Linked DNA regions of Homo sapiens. The protein of the gene in region 2 interacts with the protein of the main gene of each other region in a pairwise test. Each region holds a gene or a part of one and is shown on either strand. Other genes may lie near its edges.

Region 1 (3,741 bases), on a different chromosome or scaffold from region 2:
CCCTGTCTCTACAAAAAAAATTAAAAAATGAGCTGGGCGTGGGGTGTGTGCTTGTAGTCCCAGCTAGATGGGAGGCTGAGGCAGGAGGATCACTTGAGCCCAGGAGACTGAGGTTGCAGTGAGCTAGCTATGTTCATGCCACTGCACTCCAGCCTGGACAACAAAGCAAGAGACAATACAATTTCCCATATGTTGGTATGTATGAGATATATACCTATTATTAATTTATGACATTTCCTTTACTTTAGCAAGTTAGTAGTAAGAGGTGAAGTCAAAGAGGTAAGCTGGGGCTAGAGACTAGTAAACCAAGTACGGAGTTCAGATTATATTCTAATTGCATTAGGGAACTATTAAGAGTTAAGTAGGAAATCGGCATTTGCATTAAAAAAAAAAAAAAACCACCTTAGTCCTATGTGGAGGATAGATAAGTTAGGCAACAGTAATACCGGAAATAAGTGATGAGGTTTGGACTAGAGCAGTGATGATGATAAATTCTTTTAAATTTCCTAACAGCCTCTTCAGGTAGGTACTATTATCTTCATTTTAGAGTGAGCCAAGGGCAGAGAGATTAAATAACTGGTCCAAGGTCACACAGTTTAGTAGGGGCCATATTGAGATTCAAACACAAGCAATTTGGTGGAAGAGTAATAAGATGTAGAGAAGAAGACGAAGTAGTTTTAGAGTTATGGTTGTCAAGACTTGCTAATCAATTAGATGTACAGATGAAAGAAAGAAAGAAAGAATATTCCTAGGTTTTGCTTGAGTTTGGTAGTATAATTATGCAGAGAAAGGATATAAAATAAAAAGAAAAGGGGTTCCAGGACCTACATATGGAGTACTGCACCATTTAAAAGTTGAACAGAGAAGGAGGCAGGAGCAGAACACCCAGTGCTTGGCAGGAAAATTGGGAGAGCTCGAAAAGCCAAGAGACTAAGTATTTCTAGGAGGAGGGAGGACAATGTATACAATGCTGTTGAGAGAAGGTGTAAATGAGAACAGGTGTAAATGCTAAATTAATTCCGAGAGTCTTCTAATTGTATAATTAAGGCGACAATTTCTATATGATTGCCATGCATCCTTCCATTTTTCACCTCATGGTCCACGTACCGTAAGAGATCCATTTTGTGTGCTGGGTGAGTTGCTGCTCTGCTCCCCGTGGGCTTGCGTACTTCCGTAGAGTGTCAGGTTATGCTCACCGGTCTGGCCGGCATAGTCTTGAGTGTGTGGCACCCCATACTCTGTGGGAATTCCATTCTGCGGAGGTGGTGGAAATGGGATGGTAGTAAAAGGCTGAACCATTGCGTCAGGAGTTGTTGTCGGCTCCTGGTTACCCTAAAACAAACAACAAGAGAAAGAAAAAGTGACTTTGAATCCTTGTTACGTAACTATTTTTAAAGTGAGTATATGGAATTCTCTGAATATTCTCTCACTGCATAGGTAAAATGGAATGCTTATTGCTCCAGGATTGGAGAAAATATTATTACACATACACACATAGATATATGTATGTGGACAGACACACACACACACACACACACACACACACACACACTCACTTTTGTTAATGTGTAGTTACTAGACAGGCCCACAACCATATTTAAGTGGACTAGATGCCAAAGGGGCAAAAATCTTTCCTTTAAATTAAAAGTAGGTGGAGAGCCCACTTTGGACCACAAGCCACTACAGCCTATACCACAGAGAGAGACTCTGTCCCTAAAAAATACGAAAAACAAAAAAGAAAAATCAACTAGGAGAAAATATTAGCAAAAGGTAAGAGAGATGCTGGGTTATTATCACTAGTCCCAGAGTGGGTTAACCAAGTTGACAAGACAGACACACATGTACACACAAACACACACACATCCCAAGAGAAAAACAGGCAAACTGTGTATCTGAACAATTCATTGAAAATGAAATACAAACAACTAATAAAAATGCTCAACCTCACTAACTGTCACGAAAATTCACATTAACATCAAAGTAAGTCCAAGTCTTTAGTCATCAAATCAGCAAAAAAATTAAGCAGTTTTATTATGATATAACTGTCATATGATAAACAGCACTTATTTATTTACAGTATACAATTTGGTAAGTTTTGATATATGCACTTATATTCTCATGAAATCATCACCACAATCAAGATAGTCAACACATATATCCAAAACCCCCAAAAGTTTCCTTGTGCCCCAATAATAAACATATATTACTTTTGTAATAAAACCTATACAAATATATTGTTTTTAATACTAAAGAGAATGACAAAAAATATATCATCAATAAGGGGAAGCCAATATTCTGAAACACTGAATTACTGTGTTACTCTTAAGAGAATGGTAGTGACCTACCTTGAAACAAAAATTCATAACTCTCTTCCATTTAAAAGTTAAACAACTTCAAAATTCAGCTGTCTCCAATGTCCAAGAATCATTTCTACTTGGTAATAAAAACTGCTTTACACAATAGTGGTGAAAGAAAAAAGGCAGAGAATTGGGGGTGGGGGGCTGCCACAGTCTAGATAAAAAGTGATGAACTGATTACAGTTATCAGTGGGAAGGGGCAGAGTCATAGACTGAGTTGTGCTCAGTCTCCAACCCGTATGTTGAAGTTCTAACCCTCAGTACCTCAAAATGTCACTGTTTTTAAAGATAAGGTCTTTAAAAAGGTAATTAAAGTGATGTCATGAGGGTGGGCCTTAATCCAATTGGAGTGGTGTCCTTATAAGAAAAGGGAATGTGGATACAGACACATACAGAGGGAGGCCCATGTGAAGACACAGAGCATGACCATCTACAAGCCAACAAAAAAGACATCAGAAGAAACCAACCCTGCTGACACCCTGATCTTGCACTTCTAGCCTCCAGAATGGTAAGAAAATACATTGCTATATTGTTATGTAATACTTTCTTATGGCAGCCCTTGCAAACTGGTAAAGGCAGGAATGAAGATTCTGTAACAGAAATTAATAATAAAAATAAAAATAAATTGCTTTACATAAAAATTTTCCTGCTATTGGACATAATGGTTCATGCCCTTGTAATCCCAGCACTTTGGGAGGCTGAGATGGGAGGACTGCCTGCGGCTAGGAGTTCAAGATCAGCCTGGCCAACACAAAGAGACCCTGTCTCTAGAAAAACTTTAAAAAATTAGCTGGGCATGGTGGTATGTGTAGTCCCAGCTACTTGTGAGGCTGAGAAAGGAGGACTGCTTGAGCCCAGGAGCTGGAGGCTGCAGTGAGCCATGATTGCATCACCCTAGCCTGGGCAACAGAAAGACCACGTCTCTTAAGGGAAAAAAAAAAAAAAAAAAGGCTGGGTGTGGTGGCTCACTTCTGTAATCCCAGCACCTTGTGAGGCTGAGGCGGGCAGATCACTTGAGGTCAGGAGTTCAATACCAGCCTGGCCAACATGGTGAAACTCCATCCCTATTAAAAATACAAAAATTAGCCAAGCATGGTGCCAAATGCCTTTAATCTCAGATATCTTGGAAGCTGAGGCAGGAGAATCGCTTGAACTCAGGAGGAGGACATTGCAGTGAACTGACATCGCTGCCATTAAACTCTAGCCCGGGCAACAGAGTGAGTGAGACTCCATCTCAAAAGATAGAAAAAAAAAAAAACCCCTCTCTTTAGTTCTTAGAAAATATGTTATGAAAACTTTAAATTTTTTTGGAAAAAGTCTATCTTCGTCACCCATCACCATATAACTTCTTTACGTTATTTCTAGGTTAGGATAGTTTTTATGA
Region 2 (2,700 bases):
AATATTAGCCAGGTTTGGTGGTACCCCCCTGTAGTCTCAGCTACTTGGGAGGCTGAGAGGGAAGATCACTTGAGCCTAGGAGTTCAAAGCTGTAGTTCTACCTTTAGAAAACGTATCCTAAGGTGACAGACGAGTATGCAAACACATATGTGAGGATATTAACTTTAGGGTTGTTTATAATGGTGAAAAATTAGAAATAACCAACATGGACATCGAGTACTGGTTAAATGTGTAGTGGCATATCCATACAAGAAAACATGTCATCAAAAATGTCCATGTAAGCCTGTACAAAATTGTGCACAACATGTTGAGGGGGGAAAAGCAATACACAAAATCAAATAATTCCAATTTTATAAATGAACATGTGGAAGACTGCTCACTAAAATATTAGATAAGGGTGACTGGTTTTTTTTCTCTTTAGATTTTTATATCTAGCTTTTATTATTTTTATAATAAATATTTCAAGCTATTTTCATTTTAGAAAACAAAAGCCACTAAAATCAAGTATTACTATCTTTATTATGGTATACAGCAGTATTTTATACATTAGCTCATTTTATAGTAAAAACATTTATGCACAACTGTAGAGAAACTGCTGCACAGATAGCTCCAACTTAAATTAGAAAATATTTTCTTTGTAGAAAATAGTAAAAATTATAACATTTACCAAGCTAACCCAACAAGTTCATTTAAACCAAAAAGTAGCTAAATACATTATACATTTATAAATACAGGTTGAATTCTGGGATCCAGGAGAAACTTTAGTCCTTTATTGAAATAGCCATGTTTTAAGTTATGTGAAGTGAAATTTCTATTAATCTTCTCTCTTACTCTTAATTTATGCCAGATTATTTTTCTTTAGGCTAAATCCATAATCCACAACAAGGTTTTAGCTGTTCTTTTCTAAAGGACGGGTACCATATCCTTTTAATCTGCTTGATAAGGTACCCATGCCTATCCAAATAATGAAATGGTTCAGTTATTATTAAAGCATGCCCAGTATTTGGGCAAAACCAGAATCTAATAAATTACACTGTCACCTAATACCCATGGCTTGATGGGAAGCCATGAGGAACAAGGGTAAAGTGATAAAACTGGCAAGTGGATCAAGGAATAAAAGCCAAGAGAATTCTGAGACCAGAGGGCAAGAAATATCTAGTCGGGATTCAAGGACAGAACTGAAGTTCAAATAGAAAAAGAATGTTGCCTCAAGGATTAGGAGCTGAGCTGGCTATCAGAGCTCCTAGTACATGGTGATCAAATAAGGGGCAGTTAGAGATAAAGACTGGATTAAGCAAGAGAAATCAGGACCAAGAAAGATTCTAGGTATTCACAATAATTAAATGAAAACAAGACAGACCATGCAGCTTTAAATTTCCTAGCATAGTAGTTCCAGGATTCTCAGTACAGAAATAATCTCTGGAAATTAAGGCGAGAAGATAATGCCACTCTTAAGCTCCTGTGCTATGTAGAATGTTTCCCAGAGAAATAATATCTGAGAAATCAGGCAGTTATCTGGCCAGGGGCTACATCAGGTTCTTCAGTTCCCTCAAAACAACTTAATCACATACAGTTTGTCTTAAAAGGAAGCCTCCAAGCAGCTAAAACAAACTTTCAACAGACATTCAGTTTAACAGATCCTATACTGTGGCTTTAGGAACTAGGCCACTGACTACCTAAAAACCCCAGCTTGCCCACTTGAAGTTAACCTCTAGAAACATTAGTGATCTGTGAAGTTTTCACCATTAAAACAATGCTTTATCATCCAAATCATACTTGTTCTTCTCTTTGCTTTCCAGTTATGAATTTGTTACCTTTTTGCATTTGATTATTTCCAGTGGTTTGGTTCTTTTTTTTTTTTTTTTTTTTTACATACTCTTGAGCAATGCTAATCTGCGCCCCCTACTCCCTTAAGTCCTTCTTGGTAAATAATGTTAATCTTCCAATAGGAAGAAGTGGAGTACATTACCATTTAAGCACCATTTATCCAGCCTACTTACAAATAAAGCTATGGAGCCACCTTATACATGTGAAATTCCTTAAAACCCTGGCTTTCTATTAAAATGTACTTTTATATATACTATCTATGAAGAATTCACTAAAGCATGAATCACCTTATAATGAGAAGCTAAAAATGTATCAAAACGAACATAAGTATAGGTAATCCACATCAAACATACTACATCTTCCAAGTCTAGAGCATACACTGGTATAAACTGTATTACAACCCAGATTAGTTTGAAATCTTGTTTCAAAACATTGCTCAGTATTAAGTCTCAGTAGACAAATAATAGGACCACATGAGAAACTGTTCGGCAGGTGGCTGAGGAAACCTTAACTTCCAAAGGCTCAAAGTGGTCCTCCAGAGACTGTTACACTCCCTTAGGTATTTATTTCAGGGAAGGACACTATTAAGGGACACTTTTGAGTATAAAGACAGGTGAACTCACAAAGTATAGGCAGATACATGCTTGATTTTATCTTCTAATCTACAGATAATACATTAGAATAAAAATGTAATGAATTCATACACCTTTCAAAAGGAAAAACTGATGAAGAAGTAACAATAAAGTTATAAATGATAATGATCAGATGAAATAATTTAAATGAAGCTTGTCTGTGTCTGAAAGAGACAGGGACTTGGCAAGTGGTCAAAAGGAGGCACAATGTGCTTTTAACTTTGCATGAAAAATAATGTTC
Region 3 (3,741 bases), on a different chromosome or scaffold from region 2:
TCTGACTGCTCTGGCTAGTAGGACTTCCAGTACTATATTAAAGATGAGTGGTGAGAGTGGGTATCCTTTTCTTGTTCCAGGCCAGGCTGGTAGCTCATGCCTGTAATCCCATCACTTTGGGAGGCTGGGGCAGGCAGGTCACTTGAATCCAGGAGTTCAAGACCAACCTGGCTGACATAGTGAGACCCCCATCTCTACAAAAAAATTTTTAAAAATTAGCTGGGTGTGGTGGCATGTGTCGTGGTCCCAGCTACTTAGAAAGCTGAGGTGGGGGGATTGCCTGAGCCCAGGACATTGAGGCTGCAGTGAACCATGATCATGACAGGGCAAGACCCTGTCTCAAAAGATTAAAAATTTCTTTTTAAGGGCTCAGTGTGGTGGCTAATCCCTGTAATCTTAGCACTTTGGGAAGTCAAGGTGGAAGAATGGCTTGAAGCCAGAGTTTAAGATCAGCCTGGGAAATATAATGAGATTCTGTCTCTATTGAAAAAAAAAAAAATCAGCCAGGCATGGTGGTGAGTGCCTATAGTCCCCATAGCTTCTTGGGAAGCTGAGGTGGGAGGACTGGTTGAGCTCAGGAGTTTGAGGCTACAGTGAGTCATAATCATGCCACTGCACTCCAGCCTGGGTGACAGAGTGAGACCCCATCTCAGGAAAAAAAAATTTTTCAATAAAATTTTAAGTTTTATTGTTTATGTCATTAAAACAAATATTATGTTAATATAGCAACATCAGAAAGTTAAAGTCACTTATAATTTTACAGAAATCACTATTGACATTTTTGCATATTCTTCCAGATTTTTTCTAATCATATATATTTATAAGCAGATATTCATTCACAAAATGAATTATTACTACACATCCAAGTGACTGTTCTATGTGCTGGAGATACAAGGATGATCAAGACACTTAAAGTCTCTATGTATAAAATTTATATTCTGTGTGTTTTATAACTATATCTGAATTTTTAAAATCAGGTTTATTTCATGATATCACAGAGGAACTGAACATTTTAAGTGAACTCATGTTTGCTAATTAACTAACGCAATTATGGAAAATGCAAAAGAAACTGACCTGAATATAGAGATTTAATTTAATACAAAGCTGTCTGATGGCAAGGTAATAGAAATTTCTTCAATTTACTGAGGTGTTTACATAGATCTAAAATTTTCTGGAATTAAAGAACTTTGGGCCAGGTGCAGTGGCTCACACCTGTAATCCCAGCCAGCACTTTGGGAGGCCAAGGCAGGCGGATCACAAAGTCAGGAGGTCAAGACCATCCTGGCTAACATGGTGAAACCCCGTCTCTACCAAAAATACAAAAAATGAGCCGGGCACGGTGGCACGCACTTGTAGTCCCAGCTACCTGGGAGGCTGAGGCGGGAGAATTGCTTGAACCTGGGAGGCGGAGGTTGCAGTGAGCCGAGATTGCACCACTGCACTCCAGCCTGGGCGACAGAGTGAGACTCCGTCTCAAAAAATATAATAATAATACTAAGATTTTATGTTTCTAAGAGTTGATTATCCTGATTTTTAAAATTCATTTAACTATTATTTATTGACTGACTTCCAATATGCACTACACAGAAATACAAAAGGACTCTATTAAAACAGGAAACTTTTTACAAAGTTAGATTCAACTGCAAATAAGGTCCTATTGAGGGGCTTATTAAAAATGAAATATCTATTAGGAATATAACGTTTTAAAAATTTACCTTTTTCTTGCTTTTTTCCTATTAGGAATACAATTTACTATTCTAAAGTAAATTGTCAAGAATACGATTTAAATACAGTTTAATTTTCTTTTTCTTTCTTTCCCATTTTTTTTTTGAGACGGAGTTTCACTCTTGTTGCCCAGGTTGGAGTGCAATGGCGCGATCTTGGCTCACTGCACCTGGCTTAATTTTTAAAGTAATCTGAATATTCACTGTCTAAACATGATGACATCAAGATCAAAAAAATTTCTTAATATTTCTGAGAGCTCTTTGACTTTTAAAATATAAGCACTATTATGATAGATCAATTAAGATTATGAATTTAGGACAGGCACGGTGGCTTACGCCTGTAATCCCAGCACTTTGGGAGGCCGAGGCGGGCGGATCACAAGGTCAGGAGATCAAGACCATCATGGCTAACATGGTGAAACCCCATCTCTACTAAAAATACAAAAAAACATTAGCCGGGCATGATGGTGGGCGCCTGTAGTCCCAGCTACAGGAGTCTGAGGCAGGAGAATGGCGTGAACCCGGGAGGCGGAGCTTGCAGTGAGCTGAGAGTGCACTACTGCACTCCAGCCTGGGCGACAGAGCGAGACCCCGTCTCAAAAAAAAAAAAAAAGATTATGAATTTAATTGTCATAGTTATAAAATAGAATGTATTGAATCTCAACTATCCTAAATAATTATTAGCTAGAATTATCAACAATCACTCTACTATTCTGTGATATAGGACCTATTATTATCATCATTTTATAGAAAAAGATGATGAGGTTCATTGCTCAAAATTATAAGGTTATCATTTATTGAGCATTTACCATAGTAAGGTACTATGCTAAAAGTGTTTTACCTATATCATTTAACCCTTTTGACAATGCTGTGATTCAGTTACCTGTTCCAATTTACATATAGGATAGGCAGATAAGTAACTTTCCCAAGATTACAAATATGCTGAGTGGCTGAGCAAGAACTCAAACCTACATGTGTTTATTTCAAAGCCCGTACTCTATTATTACAATAGGAACTTTTTCAAACCAATAAACAAAGCTCTCTTCTGCCTTTATTAGTCAAAAATCCATAGCTTTAAATCTTTTTCTGGATAGGTTAACAAATTAAAGATGTTAAAAGGAATTATTTGTTCCTTTTTGTTTTCAACTTTTGCCAGTTGAAATTTAATTAGAAGCAGTACCGTAACATACAAAAAACTCTATCTCCGACACCACCCAAAAGCTAGAGCTCTAACTATGCAGGCATTGTAGTCACTGAAAAAACATTAGGTAGAACAGATTGAGAAGTGGAGTTTAGGAAGAAGTTGTAAAAAGTGCCAATAGCTTAGGGGTAAGAATTCCAAATATTCCCAGTTTCCTGACAGGTACTCTGATCCTACTGCAAGTTACCTTTACTAGCCTAATTTTATTTTTTTTACTTTATTTACTTTTGCTCACTCACTCTGAAATTTCATCAGTAAAATTTTCATTGATGTTAATAAGCCCTTTTTCTTAAAAAGAAAAAACTTTGGAGGGAACATCAGCCATTAACAAATTGGTATAAATTTCTGTAAGGATGGATTTCTTCCTTTAAAACGAGTTAAAAAGAGCTACCCTGAGGGAGTGAAAAGTTTTACTTGGAGGTGAGAAAGCAAGTACAGGTGAGCCTCAAAGAACTTAGAGGGATTCAGCAGGCCTGCACAGGATGCTGCAGTGAAGACTGAGGGAAGTATGACTGGCTTAGGTAAGTACACTAGTTAAGGGGTGGGGAGTATGTTGACAGAGGAAGACTGCCAAACACAAACCACCTACTGCAGAATTTTGCCCATATTGAGATTTTGCCAATGGAATAAAAATAACTATATTTTCTACTGCCTTCTGGAAATGAAAATCTATGGGTTAAAGACTTTTTGTGGTTACATTGAGAAAATATTAAAGTAGTTTCTATACGGAAAAGTTGGTTTTAATATGATGACTGACCTAACCCATTGTTGAAATGAAGATTAAAAGTACATTTTTAAGTTACAGACACACTTTAA

What was found.
Region 1: the proteins of DDX21 (region 2) and RBFOX2 interact in a two-hybrid assay, tested with the Homo sapiens proteins (one large-scale study listed by BioGRID).
Region 3: the proteins of DDX21 (region 2) and CARF interact in binary tests that used the Homo sapiens proteins (3 or more experiments, as listed by UniProt).

Annotation. Positions count from the first base shown.
Region 1 is NC_000022.11:35,808,673-35,812,413, forward strand, and holds part of RBFOX2 (RNA binding protein fox-1 homolog 2), read right to left. Parts: intron 1,333-3,741; coding exon 1,108-1,332; intron 1-1,107. UniProt on the Homo sapiens protein: RNA-binding protein that regulates alternative splicing events by binding to 5'-UGCAUGU-3' elements. Prevents binding of U2AF2 to the 3'-splice site.
Region 2 is NC_000010.11:68,982,869-68,985,568, reverse strand, and holds the end of DDX21 (nucleolar RNA helicase 2), read right to left. Parts: 3' UTR 501-2,700; downstream 1-500.
Region 3 is NC_000002.12:202,918,754-202,922,494, reverse strand, and holds part of CARF (calcium-responsive transcription factor), read right to left. Parts: intron 1-3,741. UniProt on the Homo sapiens protein: Acts as a transcriptional activator that mediates the calcium- and neuron-selective induction of BDNF exon III transcription. Binds to the consensus calcium-response element CaRE1 5'-CTATTTCGAG-3' sequence.